Linked DNA regions of Homo sapiens. The protein of the gene in region 1 interacts with the protein of each later gene in a biochemical or structural test. Each region holds a gene or a part of one and is shown in the gene's direction. Other genes may lie near its edges.

The links.
Region 2: the proteins of S100A6 (region 1) and IL9 form a complex in vitro, tested with the Homo sapiens proteins (one study listed by BioGRID).
Region 3: the proteins of S100A6 (region 1) and CACYBP are reported together in a solved structure, tested with the Homo sapiens proteins (2 studies listed by BioGRID and IntAct, with this or other methods).

What each region holds. Positions count from the first base shown.
Region 1 is NC_000001.11:153,534,093-153,540,498, reverse strand, and holds S100A6 (protein S100-A6), read left to right. Parts: upstream 1-4,507; 5' UTR 4,508-4,550; exon of another isoform or gene 4,551-5,138; 5' UTR 5,139-5,159; coding exon 5,160-5,297; exon of another isoform or gene 5,298-5,595; intron 5,596-5,668; coding exon 5,669-5,803; 3' UTR 5,804-5,900; downstream 5,901-6,406. Other genes in the region: S100A5 (protein S100-A5), read left to right, coding at 294-445, 3,063-3,203. UniProt on the Homo sapiens protein: May function as calcium sensor and modulator, contributing to cellular calcium signaling.
Region 2 is NC_000005.10:135,892,839-135,900,037, reverse strand, and holds the start of IL9 (interleukin-9 precursor), read left to right. Parts: upstream 1-4,196; 5' UTR 4,197-4,221; coding exon 4,222-4,335; exon of another isoform or gene 4,336-4,340; intron 4,341-4,447; coding exon 4,448-4,483; intron 4,484-4,565; coding exon 4,566-4,598; intron 4,599-5,886; coding exon 5,887-6,018; intron 6,019-7,199.
Region 3 is NC_000001.11:174,995,201-175,002,949, forward strand, and holds the start of CACYBP (calcyclin-binding protein), read left to right. Parts: upstream 1-4,746; 5' UTR 4,747-4,980; coding exon 4,981-4,995; intron 4,996-7,749. UniProt on the Homo sapiens protein: May be involved in calcium-dependent ubiquitination and subsequent proteasomal degradation of target proteins. Probably serves as a molecular bridge in ubiquitin E3 complexes. Participates in the ubiquitin-mediated degradation of beta-catenin (CTNNB1).

The sequences.
Region 1 (6,406 bases):
TGAGGAGGTCGTCTTCTCATCTTTCTGCCTCAGGCCTACTTTTCAACAACTCCCCAGCAGGAGAGTCTGTGGTCTCCTTTGGGGTCTTGCTGTTCTCCTTGTACCAGCAGCTCCAGAGTTTGTTGTGGGTCTCATTGTAACCTGTACTGATATAGATGGGCGCTCTTGTTAGTGGATTTCAGTCTCATCCTGGGTTCCAGTCTCTTGTTCTTTGAGGGAGGGGCCTCAGAGGTAGGCTAGTGCTGCTGGTGGTGACTTCCTGAGGAATGGGATCTTCCCCTCTCCCTCTACAGAGCTGCACACTGTGATGGAGACTCCTCTGGAGAAGGCCCTGACCACTATGGTGACCACGTTTCACAAATATTCGGGGAGAGAGGGTAGCAAACTGACCCTGAGTAGGAAGGAACTCAAGGAGCTGATCAAGAAAGAGCTGTGTCTTGGGGAGGTAGGTGATTGTTCCCTCATCCTCCACCCCAAAGTCTGAGTACTCCCTCTGGGGGACACATACCTACCCTCAGGATCCTCCAGCCTAAGCCAGGGGCAGGGTGGCCAAGGGCTACAGACAGAGACAAAGGAAGATGGTGGGGATTTCGGGCCAGCAAAACTCTAGCCCTCTGTGAAGGAGAATGGGTCAGGGTCTCACTGAGAAGGAGGAAGGGCTGAGTCTGGAGGGTTTAGAGAAGGAGATTGAGGAGCCTTCGATGGTGGGGCCAGGCTCTCCCAGCAGTGGCAGAACCTGTGCTAGGGGTCATGGGTGGTGAAGGGATGCAGGGTGTCCAGGTCCAGCTGTGTACAACTCAAGTGTAGGGACTCTGCCTGATTCTTCTCTGTGTGCACAGCATGGCCAGGGCTCTCTGATGGTGCTGGCACTCAAACTGAAAGGTTAACTTGTAAACATAGGGTAGTGAGGAGACAGAACTGGTTCTCACCAGATGGAGGTGGTGGGAGGGAGGTGACTGACAGAGGGGAAGGCCCATGAGGTTATTATAATACAATATCCCCGAGGATAAATAAATAAATAAATATATATATATATATATATATATATTTTTTTTTTTTTTTTTTTTTTTTTTTGAGAGAGTCTCGCTCTGTCACCCAGGCTGGAATGCAGTGACATGATCTTGGCTCACTGCAACCTCCGCCTCTCAGGTTCAAGCGATTCTCCTGCCTCAGCCTCTTCAGTAGCTGGGATTACAGGCACGCACCATCACGCCCAGCTAATTTTTGTATTTTTAGTAGAGATGGGGGTTTCACCATGTTGGTCAGGCTGGTCTCGAACACCTGACCTCGTGATCCATCTGCCTCGGACTCCCAAAGTGTTGGGATTACAGGCGTGAGCCACTGCGCCTGGCCAAGGATAAATATTTTTGAGACAGAGTCTCACTCTGTCACCCAGGTTAGAGTGCAGTGGTGCGATCATGGCTCACTGTAGCCTTGAACTTTCAGGCTCAAGTGATCCTCTTACCTCAGCCTCCTGAGAAGCTAGGACTACAAGCAAATACCACCACGCTTAGATAATTTTTAAAATTTTTTGTAGAGATGGGGTCTCACTATTTTACCCAGGCTGTTCTTGAACTCCTGGCCTCAAATGATCCTATCGCCTCAGCCTCCCAAAGTGCTGAAATTACAGGCATGAGCCACTGTGCCTAGTCTTATTATTTTTATAGTTAAAAAAAATCAATGCTCAAATACATCAAATAACTTGCCTAAGGACAATCCGCTAGTGGGAGGCTGAGCTGGAGTTCTGGGCCAGGCCTGTGAATCATCCTCCCTGTTTCCTTTAAAATTTAGCCTGGGTGCCTCTCCATCTATCACACCTTGAGCCCTGGTAGGCCCTCCCAGAAAGAAGGTCCACAGTGTGCCACATGGGCAGGGGACAGAAGCAGGTATGGGCGTCCCCAGGCCTGATCTCTGGCCTTCTGCCAGGCTGCCTGCATCCTGGAGGTTAATGAGGGCAGAGGGAGGGGCCACAGGTCCAGCAGGGATTAATTACAGAAGGAGAGACGCCCAGAGGAGGGCCTGGCAATAACAGGAGCCCAGGCTGGGGACTAGGATCACGTGACAGACAAGCAGTTTCCGCCTTTGTAAGTCCCAATGTCTCCTGTGAAAACCTGTAGCTGACGGCAATGATGAGGAGACATCAGGATCTGCTTGTCTATATTTTCTTCCTGTTCCACCCAAAGGACCCTGACTCCATCGTCCTAATGGAGCCAGGCTGGGACATCAGGGGACTGAACAACAGTGCACAACCAGGCTCCAGGCAGGCCTCTTGCACAGCTCTCCTAGCAGGGGAGGGATGCAGTGGCTTCACAGCCCCAGTGCACTGCTCTCATTGAGAGACATTTTGTCCGGGGTTATTCTCACCTAGTCCTTAGAATGGGGAGAGAGTCACTCAGAGACTTGGATAATGCTCAATGCCACATAATCAGCAAGGTGTTCTTTTTTTTTTTTTGAGAAGGAGTTTCATTCTTGTTGCCCAGGCTGGAGTGCAATGGCATGATCTTACTTACTGCAACCTCCGCTTCTCAAGTTCAAGCGATTCTCCTGCCTCAGCCTTCCAAATAGCTGGGATTACAGGGATGTACCACCATGCCTGGCTAATTTTGTATTTTCAGTAGAGACAGGGTTTCACCATGTTGGTCAGGCTGGTCTCGAACTCCTGATGTCAGGTGATCCACCCGCCTCGGCCTCCCAAAGTGCTAGGATTACAGGTGTGAGCCACCACACCTGACCCAGCAAGCTGTTTTTATCAGGTGTTGGTATAAAACCTAGATGATTGTTTCTTTGGCTGGGGGACAGTATTGCAGGGAAGGCAGGCTAGGCTAGCATTCCTGCTGTCATTTATTTCCATTCAGGAGTCAGGTCCCTGACCCCCTACCTCATGCCAGGCCCTTCCCTAGGTGTGGGCAGTGGGCAGACTCTGGGGGTCGAGATGCTGACAGTGTCATTGACTCAGCTGGGGCTCACCCTGAAGTTTCGGGGTGGGGATGACACCATGCAGTGGTGCGAGGGCAGGGCTGGGAGCGGGGTCTGAGCTGTCTCTCCACCTGGGTCCACAAAAGATGAAGGAGAGCAGCATCGATGACTTGATGAAGAGCCTGGACAAGAACAGCGACCAGGAGATCGACTTCAAGGAGTACTCGGTGTTCCTGACCATGCTGTGCATGGCCTACAACGACTTCTTTCTAGAGGACAACAAGTGACCAGGGCTGCCCTCCACCCTCACCCTCCACCCTTTGCTGCTGACCTCGGCTGCTCCTCTCACAGACCCTCTTTGGCCCCCTGCCCTCCTCTCCCTCCCAGATGGACCCTTCCATGGGAGGAAATAAAGTTTCCATCGCAGGTGCTGGGAGTCTGGTTTTGAAGCTGTCTTGTCTACCTTGGCCTGGGGAGAGGGGAGCACAGGAAGGGTCTCTCCTTGAGTGGGTTGAGACAGCTTCTGCCTCTGGGGGTTAGGGTCCTGGGCTCCCACTGCATTCCTCTCCTTCTTTGGTGTGGACGTCATTGGTTTTGTCATGGCTTAGTTTTGCCTGCCTGGAAAATGGGGAAGTTAGGCCAGGCGGGAACTCTGCAAGGATGCAGAGGAAGTTAAGAGGGAAAGTTGCTTTGAGAGGAGGACACTGGGAGGGGTTGGGAGTGGCTCCTGAGGGCGGTGATAGGCAGGCAGGCCTGACTTGTCCACAGCTCACCGGAGGCCACCTTGGCAGCACCTGTAGGAAGGGCATGTCTGGCCTCCACACCAGCCCCCTCCCTCTTCACCATTTCCCCTTCAATAGCACCACTCTCATCATCTATGGGGGACAGTGCTTTCTTCTCTCCCTGCCTCCTCCATCAAAATCTTTTCTCAGGGGAGGGTCTGAAAAGGCCTTCACTCCCCCGTAAATAACGAATGGTGCTTACAGGGCTGGGCTCCCACGTGCATGCACATTAACACCAAAGGTGCTGTAGTGAATGGAATTTGGGGCACTGAGGGGAAGGAGTGGAGGTGTTGGTAGGAACTTGTTGCTGGTGGGGGATGGGCGCCGTAGATATCCTTTACACCACTGGCTACTCCCCCTATCTCCTCTGGGGTGACCCTGAGTATCCTCTGTGGGACACCGGCATCCTGTGAGGCGCCCTCCTTGCCCACATTGACGCTGCGCTGGCTCGAGGGTCACATTCACGGTCTGGCAGAGGAAGCAGGGGTGACCGCCGCAGTCCTCCTCCTGCTCCCCTTGCCGAGTCACGTGTCACGAAGAGCAAACTGAGCAAACTGAGCTGCGCAGATGAGGGGAGACTCGTCACCAGGCGTGCAGTGGGCACTGCTGGGCTCCCCCATCCCGTCCTAACCCGGAACAGCCCCGGGCAGGAGGCGTGGAAAGTCGAGGGGGTAAACCGCGAATGTGCGTTGTGTAAGCCACGGCGCAGGGTGGGGCGCGGGCGGGACTTGGGCGGGCGGGGTGGGCTTGGCCGAGCTGGCCTCCGGGGCACCGACCGCTATAAGGCCAGTCGGACTGCGACACAGCCCATCCCCTCGACCGCTCGCGTCGCATTTGGCCGCCTCCCTACCGGTGAGTTCTCTCCAGGAGCCCTGGGTACTTTCCAGGGCCAGCTGCCCTCACGCTGGGGGTCCAGCCATCCCCTGCCCAGTTCAGCCGCTGGATCCAGACTGGGGCCATCTGTGGCGCTCCCCCGCTGGAGGGATAGTCAGGAGCAGCAGTGCTGTGCCAGGCAGGCCTTGGGCTAAGGGATCGCAATGGGGTGTGCTCTTTTGGGGTGCGGAAGGGAGTGCCCTGGGTGTGTCATTGCCACCATGTGTGGCCCTGTGAAGCTGTGTTTAAGCTGCCTTTGCAGCCTCCATTCCCCTCCCCTGCCCAGCCATACTCCTCAACTTCTGGATCCCCTGAAGGACAGTTCTCAGCTGTGCCCAAAGCTACTGTTCCTATATGCTTCTTAGAATCCTTAAGCCACCTCTCTTGCCTTGGCCCTAGTGTGCTCTCTCCTTCCCCTTCAAGCCCTGGGCTGTCTCCTGATGCCATTGTGTGTGGCCTGAGACTGGGTGGTTCCAAAGGAGGCGGGGCTAGTGCAGGCAGCATTATTGGGGTGTGTGGGTGAGAAGTCCTTGCTCCCATGGCACTGACTAGGCCCTCTGCTGCCAGCTCCAAGCCCAGCCCTCAGCCATGGCATGCCCCCTGGATCAGGCCATTGGCCTCCTCGTGGCCATCTTCCACAAGTACTCCGGCAGGGAGGGTGACAAGCACACCCTGAGCAAGAAGGAGCTGAAGGAGCTGATCCAGAAGGAGCTCACCATTGGCTCGGTGAGTGGCCTCCTCCCCAGGACCCCTTTTCCCACCCTTGTCCTTTGGAAGCAGGATTAGGGGAGAGAGAGGTGCCAGGTGCATCTGACTCACATTTACCCACATTCTGAGGCCCTGGTCCACATGTAGACCCTGAGCTGTAGACCCACTCTCCCAGCGGGTAGGGGATGCTTCCAGCCGGATATCCATCTCTCCAAATGAGGACCAGTAACTGAGAAGTAGCTGAGGAGAAGCAATGCCAAAGTGACATGGGTCCTTGGTGATGAGGGAGCACAGAGCCACTTGCAGAGAGGATTGCCTGGGAGGGGGAAGGGGAAGAATCCAGGGTTGTCATCACCACTGAGTATGGATTTCACATTCTAACACATTAGAAGCTGCAGGATGCTGAAATTGCAAGGCTGATGGAAGACTTGGACCGGAACAAGGACCAGGAGGTGAACTTCCAGGAGTATGTCACCTTCCTGGGGGCCTTGGCTTTGATCTACAATGAAGCCCTCAAGGGCTGAAAATAAATAGGGAAGATGGAGACACCCTCTGGGGGTCCTCTCTGAGTCAAATCCAGTGGTGGGTAATTGTACAATAAATTTTTTTTGGTCAAATTTACCCTTGCGTCCTGGCTTCCGAATGATTTCTGTTCCTCCTTGGCTTAGTGGGACACCAGCCATTGGAAGATTTGCTCACGGTCAACCTCTGAAAATGACTCATTGACTCGCCAGGCCAGAGGACCCACCCTGACAAGGCTGCCTCTAGCACATAAGGTGCCTTTATGTGAATGAGGAGAGATGCCCCTCTTGGCAACGCCATCCTAAGGAAAGGCTCAAGTGGTTTCCAGTAGAGAGAGTCCTGGGATGAGCTTGGAGATGGAAATGGTCCCTGGGCCGGGATGTGATGGGGTTTGGGGGCCTGGAAGTGAGGCAGAGATAGTCCCAGAGGCTCCCAGATGTGTTTTGCTCTGGGTGTGGCAAGAGGGGCCCTGGGGTGGGGCAAGTCCCCTTTCTCATCACAGCGCAGGGGTTAGATAGGGCACATCTGAGATGCCTGAGGCTTGGCTCAGGGAGTTTCCTACACCAGTGAGGACGCTGTGTGACTGAGTCTACTGCGGCTGCCCA
Region 2 (7,199 bases), on another chromosome or scaffold:
GAGCTGAAAACTAAATGATGAGAACAGGTCACGTAGGGAGGAGCTGAGGAAGGAGCCAGCAGGCCAAGCTTAGCAAGGGTAAAGGCCTGGAGGATGGAAATGAAAAGAAACTGATGTGACGGGAGGGTAGTAATGAGGGGGTATCAAAGAGCGAGGCACCTGGACCAGACCAGACCACATTTCCAAACAGAAACATGCCTCATTCCTGAGAGTATATCCCAAATGGAGCACTCCTCTCTTTCATGAGGAAGGGCTGGGTGAAGGCTTACATTCCTTTCTCTAAGTGAGTGAGCACTGGGGGTGCATTGGTGCATGGAAAGGGTAAGTAACCTGCCCAAGGAACACCAGTGGCCATGGATCACTTGACCCTGAGCCAGCTCCTGAGGGTAGCAGGGAAGGTGGGTGACCCAAGGCCTGCTGGTCAAGCCAAGACTTAACTTGTTAATTCATTCACTTTTCTCCTAACTTCAAAATGTGGGACTTTTCCTAGTAAACCAGAGCCTGCCTGAGATATCTTTGCTGCAGCTACCGGGTTTCATTGAGAGAAGATCTTTGGTTCATTGGACCAGCGAGCTCACTCCACAAAAAGCCTCAGGAAATGGCAGGCCCCCAACACTTCGGATAATCTGGCAGTCTGTGGCCCAGGTCCCCTGCTCCCTTCCCTCTGTACAGATACCTGACCTAAATAACCAGATGGGGAAAGGGAGAAGAGACACCTGAGCAACCAACCCCTAGCTCTACCCTTCCCAGGACTGGAGGATAATAGTTGATGTCTTCAGAAAATGTGGGGTGGGGTGTGGGAACTCAGCCAGGGGGTGGCCAACTTTTCCTGTAAAGGGGCCAGATAATAAATGTTTAGGCTTTACGGGCTACATACGGTCTCTATCACACATGCTTGTTTTTATTTGTTAATTATTTCTTTATAAACTTTAACCCTCTGAACCCTTAAAAAGGTAAACACTGTTCTTAGCTTGTAGACCTTACCTTCAACCTGAAAAGTGGATTACAGTTTGTTGACCGCTAACCTCGGCTGCTTTGCCCTAACAAACTTCAAACCGGATGCCACTTAAACCAAGTTAGGGATGGAGCAGCTGTTTCTTTTAATCTCTATGGGAGTACCCTGAGGGGAGCCTTCACTGACAACTGCATCCCTAGATCCCCATTCCCACTTTCCACATCACCATCCTCACTTACGAGTGAGTGAGAACTGACAACTGCAACTGCATCCCTAGATCCCCATTCCCACTTTCCACATCACCATCCTCACTTACGGTCAGGAAATGGAAGCTGGGAGAGGCCAAGCAATCCCCCAAGGCCATGGAGCTAGCAAGTGATAGAGGCAGGACTTGAACTCAGGCATTCTGATTCTAGAGTCACCGGTCTTAACCACTGCACTGTACTATCCCCTGCTAGAAACTAGAGCTGTGGCTTTCTCTTCTTGGGCAAAGCCCCCATCTGTACAACAGGAGGGGTGGGGTGGTGTTTTCCTCAATATGAAAGGCATACCCGATGGCAGGTGAAATGATTTCCACGGTTCACACAGAGAGCATCAGATAATATTGATTCACAGAATGAAAAGATGATTGCCTTTTCACATCTCTCTCAAGTCTTCCAATAATGTCAGGGAAGGAGGTTTAGTCTGATGGTAATGTATCTTTAAAATCTCTCCAAAGCATGCTAATTTTCTTTTCTTTTCTTTTTAAACAAGAACAGGTTTTATAACTCAGGATCCTCAGTAGGCAGTGATAGCTAGCTAGAATTTTAGTATCACTGTTGTACTATTATTATTACTTCTCTTGTTAGTCTCATGGTTTTATTTTTTATTGCCTTTCTGAATATTTGCTATTTATGAAAAATGTTAGTGTTGCCATTGCTGTAATTCTCTTGTCCATTTCTTCATAGTTATAATATTGCTGCTGAAGCTCCTGCCATCACACCCAAATTGGAATTAAGGGGAAAGACAGGGTTCAGCCACTTTTGTCTCCTATTACCAGGAAAGCAAAATAATTTTACATACTTTGCATTGATCGAAACATGCTGCATGGCTACATGTAGCAGCAAAAGAGGCTGAAAATGTGGGTGTTTGGCTGGATACATTGGTACCCCAAACTAATCAGAATTCTACCATCAAGAAAAAGGCATACATCCAGTGCTTTGTAACAAAAGTGTTTGCCACAGGCTGGGAATCCTTTGAGTTTTCTCTTCAGTGTCTGCAAAGAGCAGGGATGGAAGTCAGAGATGTGGGATGGCTTAAGGGAATTTAGCAAAACACCTGTTTCTCTTTACCTTGTTTACCACCAAGACACTCCCTTCCCCATAGTGCAGTGGAACACTGACGAGCCATCATCACTCCTAAGAAACAATACAAAATGAAAAAAAACAGTATTGCCATACTCTTACAGTGGAGGCGAGGAAATCTTATGAGTTTGTCCCCACTGGCTATTATAGTTCAGAGTGCTAAGCTAAAGAACCCCTCACCTTTTCAATCTACTGTGTAGAAGCTATATTTACTTACCTGCACATACCTCCAAATATGTATCCTAGAAATCAGATTTGAAATCTTATAAATCCCAGAAGTAGGAAGTTCGTATTTCAAGAACTACTTTTCAAATTAGTGTTTTAATTCAACAAGCATTTAGTGAGTGCCCACAGTTCCCCAGGCACCTCCTTAAGTGCTGAGAATATAGGGGTGAACTGGACCCATAAAGCCCTGGAGTATATATCCTGGTGGGAGAGGCAGATAAAAGATCTGCAGAAAAACAGGAGTTCAGGAGGATTAAGAGCTGAAATCAGGAGGCAGACTTCTGGGCTTGAATACAAATTCTGCGGCTTCCTGGCTTTGTGGTTTTGGGCAAATTACCTGCCTCTCTATGCCTCAGTTTCTCCATCTGTAAGATAATAAGAATAATTATAGTACTTCATAGAGTTACACTGAGATTGCTTTTTTGACTCATAGTGATTAAACACAGCCATACTGAAGGGCCAGGAAGCTAAGATGTAGACAGTGTTTTAAAGGGTAAAAAATGGTGATGACAAATTACTCCCCACCTCATTTGGCAGCCGAGTGTATTACATGGCTTAATGCATGTAAAGTACTTAGAAATGTTGCTAGTATGGTCAGGCCCAGTGGCTCATGCCTGTAATCCCAGAACTTTGGGAGGCCAAGGCGGGCGGATCACGAGGTCAGGAGTTCAAGACCAGCCTGGCCAACATAGTGAAACCTCGTCTCTACTAAAAATACAAAAAATTAGCCGGGCGTGGTGGAGGGTGCCTGTAATTCTAGCTACTCGGGAGGCTGAGGCAGGAGAATCGCTTGAACCCGGGAGGCAGAGGTTGCAGCGAACCTGGATTGTGCCACCGCACTCCAGCCTGGTGACAGAGGGAGACTCTGTCTCAAAAAAAAAAAAAAAAAAAAAAGAAATGTTACTAGTATGTAGTAAGTTCTCAGTAAATGTTAGCTACTATACTCTTTCAAGTGCTGGGTTTTTACTTGATGTCATACAGTGTTATATAAGATCTCCAAAGATACTGAGGAGTCCTCAAGGCCAATTTTAACAAGCATGGTTGCCGCATTCTTGTGCTTATAGTTGAACATTTCTTCTTTCAGACACTTGCACAAAGGGATACTTCTAAGATGCATTTGCATTAGGTGGCAAACTTCATCCTGGGTATGAAAAACATTGAGATTTGGGAATAAAGCATAGTAAGACTGAGGTTGCAATTACTAAAGGAAAACCCCAACAGAGATAAGTGAAGTTCTGCAATATCATGCACCCTCCCCCAACCCGCTCTGTCTCCCCAGGCCCCCCTTCGTTAGAACACCCATGACTGGCTATATTATATCAGCATTTCCCATAATGTAAAAAGGGAAAATACAGACCTGGGCGTTCATGGAAAGTATTCTAACTCTCACAACCAGAATCCCTGTCTTTGAATTTTTTTTCTTGGTTTTTAGATCTTTAACTTTTCCTTCAGCATTTCAGTACTCAACTTTTTGAAAATCATCTTTTCTGAGGAATGATATTTCCTGGCACAGCATCATCTCTGTCAAGTGACTCAGTTTGATTTTTTTGTTTGTTAGTATAAAGTGGCCCCAACTTACAGAGAAAAAGTGGGCTCTTGGTATCAGTTTGATGTCAGGGTTTTTCCGTGTTTGAGAGGGAGCTTTAAATACCACTCGATTTGAAGGTGTCTGCAAGCGAGCTCCAGTCCGCTGTCAAGATGCTTCTGGCCATGGTCCTTACCTCTGCCCTGCTCCTGTGCTCCGTGGCAGGCCAGGGGTGTCCAACCTTGGCGGGGATCCTGGACATCAACTTCCTCATCAACAAGATGCAGGTAGGCTGCAGGGGGAGCCCATGGGAAAGACAGCTACTGACAAAGTGAAATATGTATGAGGATGAAAAAACTCGGGGCTGACTAAAGGTTCTTATCTCTCTATCTACTTTAGGAAGATCCAGCTTCCAAGTGCCACTGCAGTGCTAATGTGAGTGAATGCTCTTTAAGAACTTTCCAAATTAATTTTAATTTTCACATCTGGAATCTTCACTCTGAAATTTCCCTTGCAGGTGACCAGTTGTCTCTGTTTGGGCATTCCCTCTGTAAGTATAGTGAAATAACATAATGTTGACCTTGGATTTTTTTGGTTTGTTTTTAAGTAAAAATAAGTTGCTTTATTTAATATTTAATGTTATACATTGTTGCTTAATTTAATTGTTACAGATTAGTATTCCCTGTTAAAACCACATTGTTACAAATTATTCCCTTTTAAAACTACGATCTTGAAATCCTATATTATGAACATTTCTTTGTATTTAATTAACTTTATGCCTCTTGAGAAGTTTGAACACTTTTCAACATTAAAAAAAGAATCCTGAATATCTTTTTAGATAGGTGGCCATGTGCACAATTAAATAAAACTGGAACTAAGGATATAATAATTGCTGTAGCTCATATCATATTGCTTTCTAACTCATTTACTGATAACTCTAGAGTTGTGAAACAATGTAAATAAAATGACAACTCCTTATCTTTCATCTGTCATGAATGATCTATGCGCTATACCTCCCCCTCCCTGCCTCCTCCCTTCCTCCCCACCACCCTGTTGTCTGTCTAGCTGATTAGAGTGACTGTTGGTTTGAATGCTGCCCTCTGGGCAGGTAGAGGATCTGAGGTTGTGAGTGGAAGGAGGGCTTCCAGAGGGCCACTGCCCACTACGGCAGGAAGGATGGGTGGCAGGAAAGTTCTGATTCCTAATTCAAACTCCTGGTTAGGGTGAGGAGGAGGCACTTCTCCAAGGTGCAGTGCTTTATTCTTTCTCATGCAAGGCCTGGGAGAATCTGAAGAATCTGAGCTTCTTGCCCTGGCTAGGGTAAGACATCGCACCCATCGCGGTCCATCCATTAGATGAGAAGAGGATAGAGTGCCTTCTGGGCAGGAACCAGGCAGACAGCACAGCCCCTGTCCCTTGGAGTACCGTCCATGTTTTTAGCTGCTGCTGAAATACCAGCTGCATTCAATTGTCACATCCCATTAGCTGGTGTGAAAAGGCTTTTCCTCACTCTGCACTTTCAGACTTACAAGCCTTGAAGCCGGGAAGCACCCGTTGAAAAGAACATTCAGAGCCGACTATTTCAGGGCCCAGAGCCCTCATGTTTCCTGGATGTAACATACAGGAAGTCTCCTCCAGGGGATGTCACTGTGGAAAAATGGCATCCCCTTTAAATACGGGAGATCACTTCCTACATTGGCAAGGGACCTGTCTAAAAATAATGCAAGTTTGAGTAATGGTGATTAAATAAAAATCATCTCTATTATATTGCTCTTTGTGATATATTTCCAAAGCTGTCCTCAGAATATTTCTTTGAATAAATCCTTACTATTTACCAGGACAACTGCACCAGACCATGCTTCAGTGAGAGACTGTCTCAGATGACCAATACCACCATGCAAACAAGATACCCACTGATTTTCAGTCGGGTGAAAAAATCAGTTGAAGTACTAAAGAACAACAAGTGTCCAGTAAGTTTGTTTTCATATGTGATATGTTCCTGTTGGTGATTTCTATGTGAATGGTGATGCCAACCCTGTTTGAACACAAAAGGATGATAAAGTTGGAATTGGTAGTTCAAGGTTGATAAAAGACATCTAAGAATTTTAATCAGAAGTAATATAATTAAAGTGAGATCCACTGAAACAATAGAATTAAAGTGAGATAGATCATTGTTCCTGACGAGGCCATTTACTTCTCTCTACTATGGAATAATGAAAGAATCCTTTCTGAGTGTAATTAGAAGCTACAATCTAGAGAATCAGGGATGTAGCTCACATAATACTAAATTATCCTAGAGATTCAATGTACTAACTGAATGGATGTTGTTAACAGGGATTTTTTTTTCCTGTTGGTTAAGGAGGTTTTGTTTTGTTTTGGAGACAGAGTCTTGCTCTGTTGCCCAGGCTGGAGTGCAGTGGTGCCATCTGAGCTCACTGCAGCCTCTGCCTCCCGGGTTCAAGTGATTATCCTGCCTCAGCCTCCCGAGTAGCTGGCATTACAGGTGCGTGCCACCATGCCTGGCTAATTTTTGTATTTTTAATAGAGATGGGGTTTCACCATGTTGGCCAGGTTGCTCTCCAACTCCTGAACTCAAGTGATTTGCCCGCCTTGACCTCCCAAAGTGCTGGGATGACAGGTGTGAGCCACCATGCCTGGCCTGCATTAAGGAGGTATTTAAAGGGCAATGCACCCAGGTCAAGGTGGAAGCTTGCTACTCATCCTGAATGCCCATCCACACATTCTTTTCTTCAGCATATACCCTAGTCCCTGACAGCAGACTGGGATGGCAAGTTGGGTAGAGGTGACCTCCCTCTGTTTTTTGGGTATTAGCATCTCCACACAAGATCCTAGAAGGCTGAAAGCCCTGAGCTCAGCTGTTTAGCTGCATGCGTTTCTACCATCAATGGCATCTAGTTCTAAGTGCTTAATATATGCTGTCTCACTGAATAAATACATACCTTAGGGACAATTATTCAATTTATTACTCTCAGTGAGGTTAACTAATTTGCCTAAGGCTGCATATTTGATAAGTGGCAGAGCTGAGATTTGAACTCAGGCCTATATGACCTCAGAGCCCCACTCTTAGCCATTGTACTGTCAAATGACCTTGGAAAGACAACCTAAAAGGATAATGATACAATTTTAGGCC
Region 3 (7,749 bases), about 21 Mb from region 1:
CTGAGAAGGTAACAAGGTGACTGTTTTTGTGAGCCAGTGATGTTTTCAATGCTTTGTGTTGCCCCTTTGGCCCCATTAAGCAGTAATAAACATTTGTTCTGAAGTCCATGTATGTCTTTTTTATTTTTTTAGTTGACTTTATTCTGACTCATTTGAACCCAATGTTTATGTAACACTTCTTACACCTGACCCCAGACTCCAGTCAACGTAGAAAACACACAGTATATACCCTGCAAAATGATACCCTGTGCAGCACCACCACAAAGTGCTTCATTTTCCTCTCTACTGAGGTTCCTTGATTCCACGTAACAGAAACCCTTGCAAGCTAGCTTAATAATAGTAATTTTAAGAGGCAATTAATTAAAAGGAAATAGGATATCTGTATCATAGGTCCCAAAGGCCAAACACTTGGGCCTGAACTGGCACTAGGACAAGGGGCTGGAATGCCATCAGGACTCTGAAAGCAACTGTTCCCAAAATTGTGCTTCTGCTTGTCCTTCCAGATGACTTACCTGCTTCATTCTTCTCTCTGAAAACAGGCTTTCTCTGCTTCTAAGTACACAGCTACCAAGTTTACATATCCTCTCTTCAAACTACCAGCAGAAGACTACCATCTCAATTGTTCCAATTACAAATTCTGGAAAAAATATGACTGGCTAATCCTGGGTCAGGTAGCTGCTGTTAGTCCTTTAAGGTACAGCAAGGTAGGAGATACTATAAAATTCAAACTAAACTTCAGAGGCACTTATGAAAGTGGAGATAGTGTGCAGAGAATCCCAATCATATCTCATTTGCATTTGCATTTTGTGCTGGGAATCCATGGAACCCAAGTGAAATCTCAAGAGATTTGTCAGCTCCTCTTGGAATTCAGCATGTATTAAAAAATAATCAAAGACTGTAAGATTACAGCTTTTGGCCCAAATTCAGACCACAGACATCTTTCATTTGGCCATGTGGTATTTTTTGTTTGTTTGTTTTCTGAGATGGTCTTGCTCTGTCACCCAGGCTGGAGTGCAGTGGCGTGATCTCAGCTCACTTCAACCTCCACCTCCCAGGCTCAAGTGCCTCCCACCTCAGCCTCCCAAGTAGCTGGGACTACAGGCATACACCACCATGCCTGGCTGATATTTCTATTTTTTATAGAGACAAGGTTTTGCCACATGGCAAGGCTGGTCTCAAACTCCTGAGCCCAAGCAATCCACTCGCCTCAGCCTCCCAAAGTGCTGGGATTGCAGGCATGAGCCACCATGCCTGGCCCCCATCTGGTGTTTTAAACAATGTGAAATTTTACATAAAAAGTAAAACAATCAAAATTACTCAGAAGTGCTCACTTCAACAGCACATACACTAAAACTGTAATCTACAGAGAAGACTGTTGTGTCCCCTGCACAAGAATAACACACAAATTCATTAAGCATTCCATATTTTGCACAGTCCCCAGAAGGTCATTTATCTGCTGACAAGCCCGAAGGGAACAGTATGAGTCATAGCAAAAAAAAAATTAAAAATATCCATTGAATTTGGCAGTTAGGAAATCATGAGTAAGCTTGACAGGTACATTAACTGGGGGAAGCAGTAAAGGCTGCCTGCAATAGGACAACTGAATGAGAAATAATTTCATTTTGAAAGGAAAATTATTCCAAACTTTGGAAACAAGGCAAAAAGGTGAGTGGCATGTCCTTTCAGTGTCAAACCAAGGACTAGGGGATTGTACTTTGTTCATTTCATCGTTCACTATTGATTTAAAAGTCCTATACTGAATCTATACATTAACTTGTAGATTTTTGTCCAGTAAGAATGCAAATCCCTACTTCCTTTCCAGTGGAACAGATAACACCAAAAGTTATAGTTTATTACCCTGTGAGACATTAACAGGTTTATATCTAACCTTGCCACCTTATACTAACATTACATTGTTAAATTGCCTATAAATACCTGGCTACTCAAATACACTCTCAGTAACTAATAAGTCGAATAAAGTATTTGTCACATGTCCATTTATATTTGCATAATATTGTCTGGAAAAGCCTCCCTTAGTGTTACTTCTGAAAGACCTAAATAGAGTGAAGAAACGATCTGTGTGATGACCTAGAGGAAGAGGATTACAGGTAGAGAGAAAGCTGGGTACAGACTTGGAGGCAAGAGCAAACCCAGTGGGTTCAATGAATAAGTAAAGTGCCAGACTGTTTAAATCAGGGAGCGGGGAAGGAAGAGTGGTGAGAGATGGGTTCTGACATGAAGCTCATAAAGGTGAGATAAGATACGTAAAACACTCAAGTTCACATTAAGGAGTTTGTACTTTATTCTAAGCCTAATAGGAAGCTGTTAGAGGTTTTTAAGCAAAGGGATATAATGATCTGAAAAGATATCTCGAGCTGCTCTGTGGAAAACTAACTCTTAAGGCACAATGGGGAAGCAGAGAAATCAGTTAGGAAGATAAATTTCAGACAAAATAATGATGACTTGGACCTGGGTGCGTAGGGTAAGAAATATCTTTTCCTTCTACCCATTTTAGGCTCACTGGCTGGGGATCCTGTAACAAAAGACAAATTAACAAGAGAAAAGCATAAATATTAATGTTAGTTTTACATAACATGGAAACTTCATAAAGAAATGAAGACCCGAATAAATAGTTAACCTTAGTGTTGTTTAGAGTAGGTTTGAAGAAGAATGGAGAATTGTGGGAAAATGTGATGGGGCTAAAAGACTGTGATCTAAGGGTAATAAACTGGGGGAAACTTAGCAAGGCCTGATGTTCATATTCGTCTCTACGTCCCTGTGTTTTCAGAGATAAAGATGTTACTTTTATTCCAGGTATAGACAGGGCAATTCTCACATGAGGGTATTACGTCCTGCTTCAGAGCAGAAAGGTGCAAGAAAGTTAGAGACATTCCTGCATATGTTCTTTCTCAAATTCCTTCAGTTCAAAGTATTCAATATGTCTAGGTGCCATATTTTTGGGTAGCATGTCCCAAACCCCGTCAGGTGGTAGAAGCAGAGGTTGTGAGAACTCGTTAAATTCGCTACATATTTTGAAGATTAAGCCAGTAAGGCTTGTTATATAAGATGTAAGGCCTGAGATAGAAGACTCAGGTATGAGTCCTTAGCCTGAGCAATTAAGAGAACGAGGTAACTGTTCACTGCATTAGGTCCATGGGATATTTGTTTTTATTTAATTATGTACTTAATAATTCCAGGCTATTGGTTGGACACTTAAAAAAATTTATACGATAAAATACACAGCTCTTAGGAGTTCATCCCATGAACTTTGACAATTCTATGTATCGGTGTAATATTTCCATTACCTGGGCAAATTCCCCTTCGCCGGGCCTTAAGCATAATCTACAGAAAAAACTACGTACATAAATATACGTTTACAACTCAATGAGATTTCTAAAGTGAACCCACCTATCTATAATCAGTGTCCAAATCAAGAAACATTACCTGAACCTCAAAAGCCCCCTGGTGGCTCTTTCATGTCATTGTCCTCCCCACTATGCTCATTAACACCATGGGCTAGTTTTTAAATGGAACCACGCAATATGAACTCTTCCATGTCTGGCTTCTTTCCCTCAACTTCATTTTTTTGTGTGAAATTCACGCATGTTGCGTTTCGGTAATTTATTTTTGTACTGTACTTCCGATTCTTTACTACAGATAATGGTCAGCCTCCATTCCGCTAACAGCTTTTTTTCCTCTCCGAGTTGCTGATTCTAATTGCTGCCTTGGACGATCTATAAAGCTGAGTGCGCGCTATGTGACCTCTCAGGGGTCGCTGCCTTGGACGATCTGTAAAGCTGAGTGCGCGCTATGTGACCTCTCAGGGGTTGTTTCCAACCGTGTTGTTGACATCTTGAGCCTGCCAAGGACTAGAATAATCTGAAAACTAGGCTTCTCTGGGGGTCTCACTGAGTGACAGGGTTAGAACCAGAAGAGAACATCGTCTCCAGAAGACATTTCACCATTTTCTTTGATGGTAAACAGGCTCACTTATACCGAATCCAAACCCAGGCGAGAACTACGGACTCTTGAAATGGTCGGTGAAAGGGGCGAAAGCACCAGGAAATCGTGCTTCAACAGTCCATGACTGAAAGGAGGGCCTGAAACTGTGGCCATAGGCGGGCCCTTTTGTTAGGGCCTTGACCTGGGCTTCCGCTACAGGGCCCGGTCACGAGGCCAACGTAGCTCCACCTCCTACGGCGGCCAGTGATGACGCCACCACGTCGGAACTGTTAGACCGCGGTGACGTCTCCACCGCGCCAAACTCACTGAAAATCAAACCGCTACCATTAGGAGCCCTCCACGCTTAACATATCCGTTCTTTCTCGTTTGAAAGTAACCAGGCTGCTCCTCCCCATTTTTCGCCTTCTTCTCGCGGAGGCTGAGAGACTAACCTTACACAACATGGCGGCCTGGTGTGTCTGGTGTCCTAGAGCGGACGAAAGCAGGTGACTCTCTAGTCAACTTCCGACTTGGACTCCGAAGATCGGTACGTTATTTCCGGGGCTGGGTTAACGCAGCGGTTCCGAGCTGCGACTGCGCAGCGTGGCCCAGCGCGGTCAAATTATAATACATAAAAGTTGTCAGGGCGGAGAGCAAGACATTACTCTTCTCGGATTGCCGGTTCGCTCGCGAGACTTGAGCGTTGCTAGGAGATTCGGCAGGCGGGCGGAGCCAGACTCGGCGGGGCGGGGAGGGGTGGGGCTAGGCTCGGCGAGGCGAGGAAGGGTGGGTGGAGCCAGGCTTGGCGGGCTGTGCGTGCTCGCGGTGGGCGGTGGCGGCGGCTGCCTCGCGAAGGTTCGAGATCCGTCGCGTGCGGGAGGCGGGCCGCGATCTTGCGCAGGGTCGGTGTGGGCGCAGGCTGCAGCGCCGCGACTCGTGCGGGTAGGCGTCTGCGCTCGGTTTGAGGGCTCGGCGCGGGGTTTCCTGTTCCTCCTTCTGCGCGGCTGCAGCTCGGGACTTCGGCCTGACCCAGCCCCCATGGCTTCAGAAGAGGTAAGTGGTCCGGCCCCATATTCCTTATGCCCCCCGGCTGGAGCTGCAGCGCCAGCCTCCCGCCCTACCGCCGTTTCCGTGGGCTGAGCCGCCCTGCGGCCACCCGGTCCCGCGCCAGTCAGTGCGCCGCCTTCCCGGGGGACACCTCACTCGCCCCTTGCTGCGCCGTCGGCTCCCCAGCGCTTCCACTCGACCTCGCACCCCACTCGCCTGCTGGGCTCGAGCGGGGGTGTGCGGCGATTATCCGTGCAGGCGGTGCGGGGAGTGGGTCTGGGAGAGCGGCCCTTTGCGCGTGTTCCTCAGGCCCTTTCTGCCCTGGTTTCCCAGCCAGTGGACAGGAAGCTTCATTCAAGCAAAGCTGGGTGCAAACATGAGTGTCGTTCTTGGTAGAGGGCGGTTGGAAGGTGAGTTCTCAGTGCTAGCACTTGAATTCTCCTAGTCAGGTTTTCTCTACACACGAGGAGCTGTGTTACTCTGGGCAAGTTGTTTAGCTTCTCTGTGTCGCAGTAGCATCCATTTCATAGGGTTGTTAAAAAATATGATTTCTAGGTGTTTAAGTCAGTGATTGGCAAACAGCAATCTGCTGTATGTGATTTTTAAAATAAATAACTTGGAAAGTTAGTTGTAATTAATAGTAAGAAAGCGAATGGCCTGTGTTAAAGCTCTGTAAACTCTGAACGTTGGAGAATTAAATTTTGTGGAGACTTAGTTTGCTCAGTTAGAAAATGGGAATGATAGTACTTGTATTGCTCATTTCCTGGCGTAAGTGGGAGGTGAAGACGGGACAGTTATTCACAGTTAAGTGTTGGGTGTGTATTAACTAGATTTGCTTTATGAAAACAAGTACTGGGGAGTCCCAAGCTTTTGTTTTGTTTTGTTTTTGTTTTTTAAACTCAAAATCTTTTCTTTAAATGAAGAAAAACTATGAGGTTTGTGTGTTCCAGTATTAATCTGGGTATCTTGTGACAAGTCTTTTAAGGTAGGTCTTGGGTACTATGTGCCCCTAGGAGATAACTTCACAGTCTTGCAGGTGGATAGCTCAGTGTTAGTCCTCTTGAAAGTAGAGATCGTTCTCAGTTTAGGCACTTAGAAATATACATTTGAGGGCACTTGATTTTTGTTTTGTTTGAGATAAAATTCAAGTTTTTAACCATTTTAAAGTGTACAATTCAGGTATTTGTTTTTTGTTTAAATATATTCACAGTGTAGTGCAGCCATCACCACTGTCTAGTTTCAGGACATTTTCATCACTCCAGAAAGAAACCATGTAGTGTGTTTTAAACAATTGCTTCCCATTCCTCCCTCAGCCCCTGACAACTACTCATCTTGTACTTTCTGTGAATTTGCCTATTGTAGGCATTTCATATAAATGGAGTCACGCTGTATGTGGCCTTTTGTTTTTTGGCTCCTTCAACTTAGCACTAACATTTTCAAGTTCATCCATGGTGTAGCGTGTATCAGTACACATGCTCTTTATGGCTAAATAATATTCTATTATATGCATGTGGCACATTGTGTTTATCCTTTCATCCGTTTATGGACATTTATTTCCACTTCTTTGTTTGAGACGGAGTCTCGCTCTGTCGCCCAGGCTGGAGTGCAATGGCGCAATCTCGGCTCACTGCAATCTCCGTCTCCCGGGTTCAAAGGATTCTCCTGCCTTAGCCTCCTGAGAAGCTGGGATTACAGGCGCGCGCCACCATGCCCGGCTAATTTTTGTATTTTTAGTAGCGACGGGGTTTCACCACGTTGGCCAGGCTGGTCTCGAACTCCTGATCTCAAGTGATCCGCCCGCCCGCCTCGGCCTCTGAAAGTGCTGGGATTACAGGTGTGAGCCATGGCGCCTGGCCTTATTTCCACTTCGTGACTAGCATAAATAATGCTGCTGCGAGTACTGTATCCAAGTTTTTTGTGTGGATGTGTTTTCAGTTCTCTGGGGTATATACCTAGGAGTGGAATTACTGGTTCATATGGTAACTTTCTGAGAAACTGTTAGACTGTTTCCAGAGTGGTTGCATCATATTCCTGTAAGAAATGTTTGAAGCTTCTGAAAGTTTCTCCACATCATTATCAACATTTGTTATTTTCTGGGGTGTTTTATTTTTCTTTTTCGGTTTATGATACCATCCTACTGGGTGTGAAGTGGCATCTTGGGAATTTGATATGCGTTTACCCAATGATGAAGATGTTGAGCATCTTTAATGTTCTTGGTGTCCATTTCTGTGTCTTTGGAGAAATGTGTGTTGAATTCCTTTGCCCATTTTTGAGGCACATTGGTGTTAATGCCTCCTAGTGAAAAATTAGGAAATAGGAAGATAAAGCTTGAATGCCTTATGGGTAGGGATAAAAGAGAAATAAAATTTTTATATACGTAAAACAAACACATGCCAAGAAGGCAAGGAAAATTACATGATAAATTAGATAGGAAACTAGGACATCTTAAAGTATTTGTGCAGAAAAAGCATCAAAGGAATCACCTTTGTTGGTTTCAAGTCTGCCAATAACAGAACTGAGGAACTGTCTCAGTTTTAAGTTTTTTCAGTGGATACTTCATAATAAAAAGAGTACTTTAGAGTCAAAACTGGCAATAAAGAGGGCTTGGGAATTCAGCCATTGGGGGAATCCCTTGCCTAATTCGAAGTACCTTTCTCATTCTGCTAGATAAAGTATTCCTATTTCAGTCAAAAAGCAAAACCTCTTGCTTAGACTTAATATATTTCATTTTACATTTCAATATTTTTATTATGAATTAGG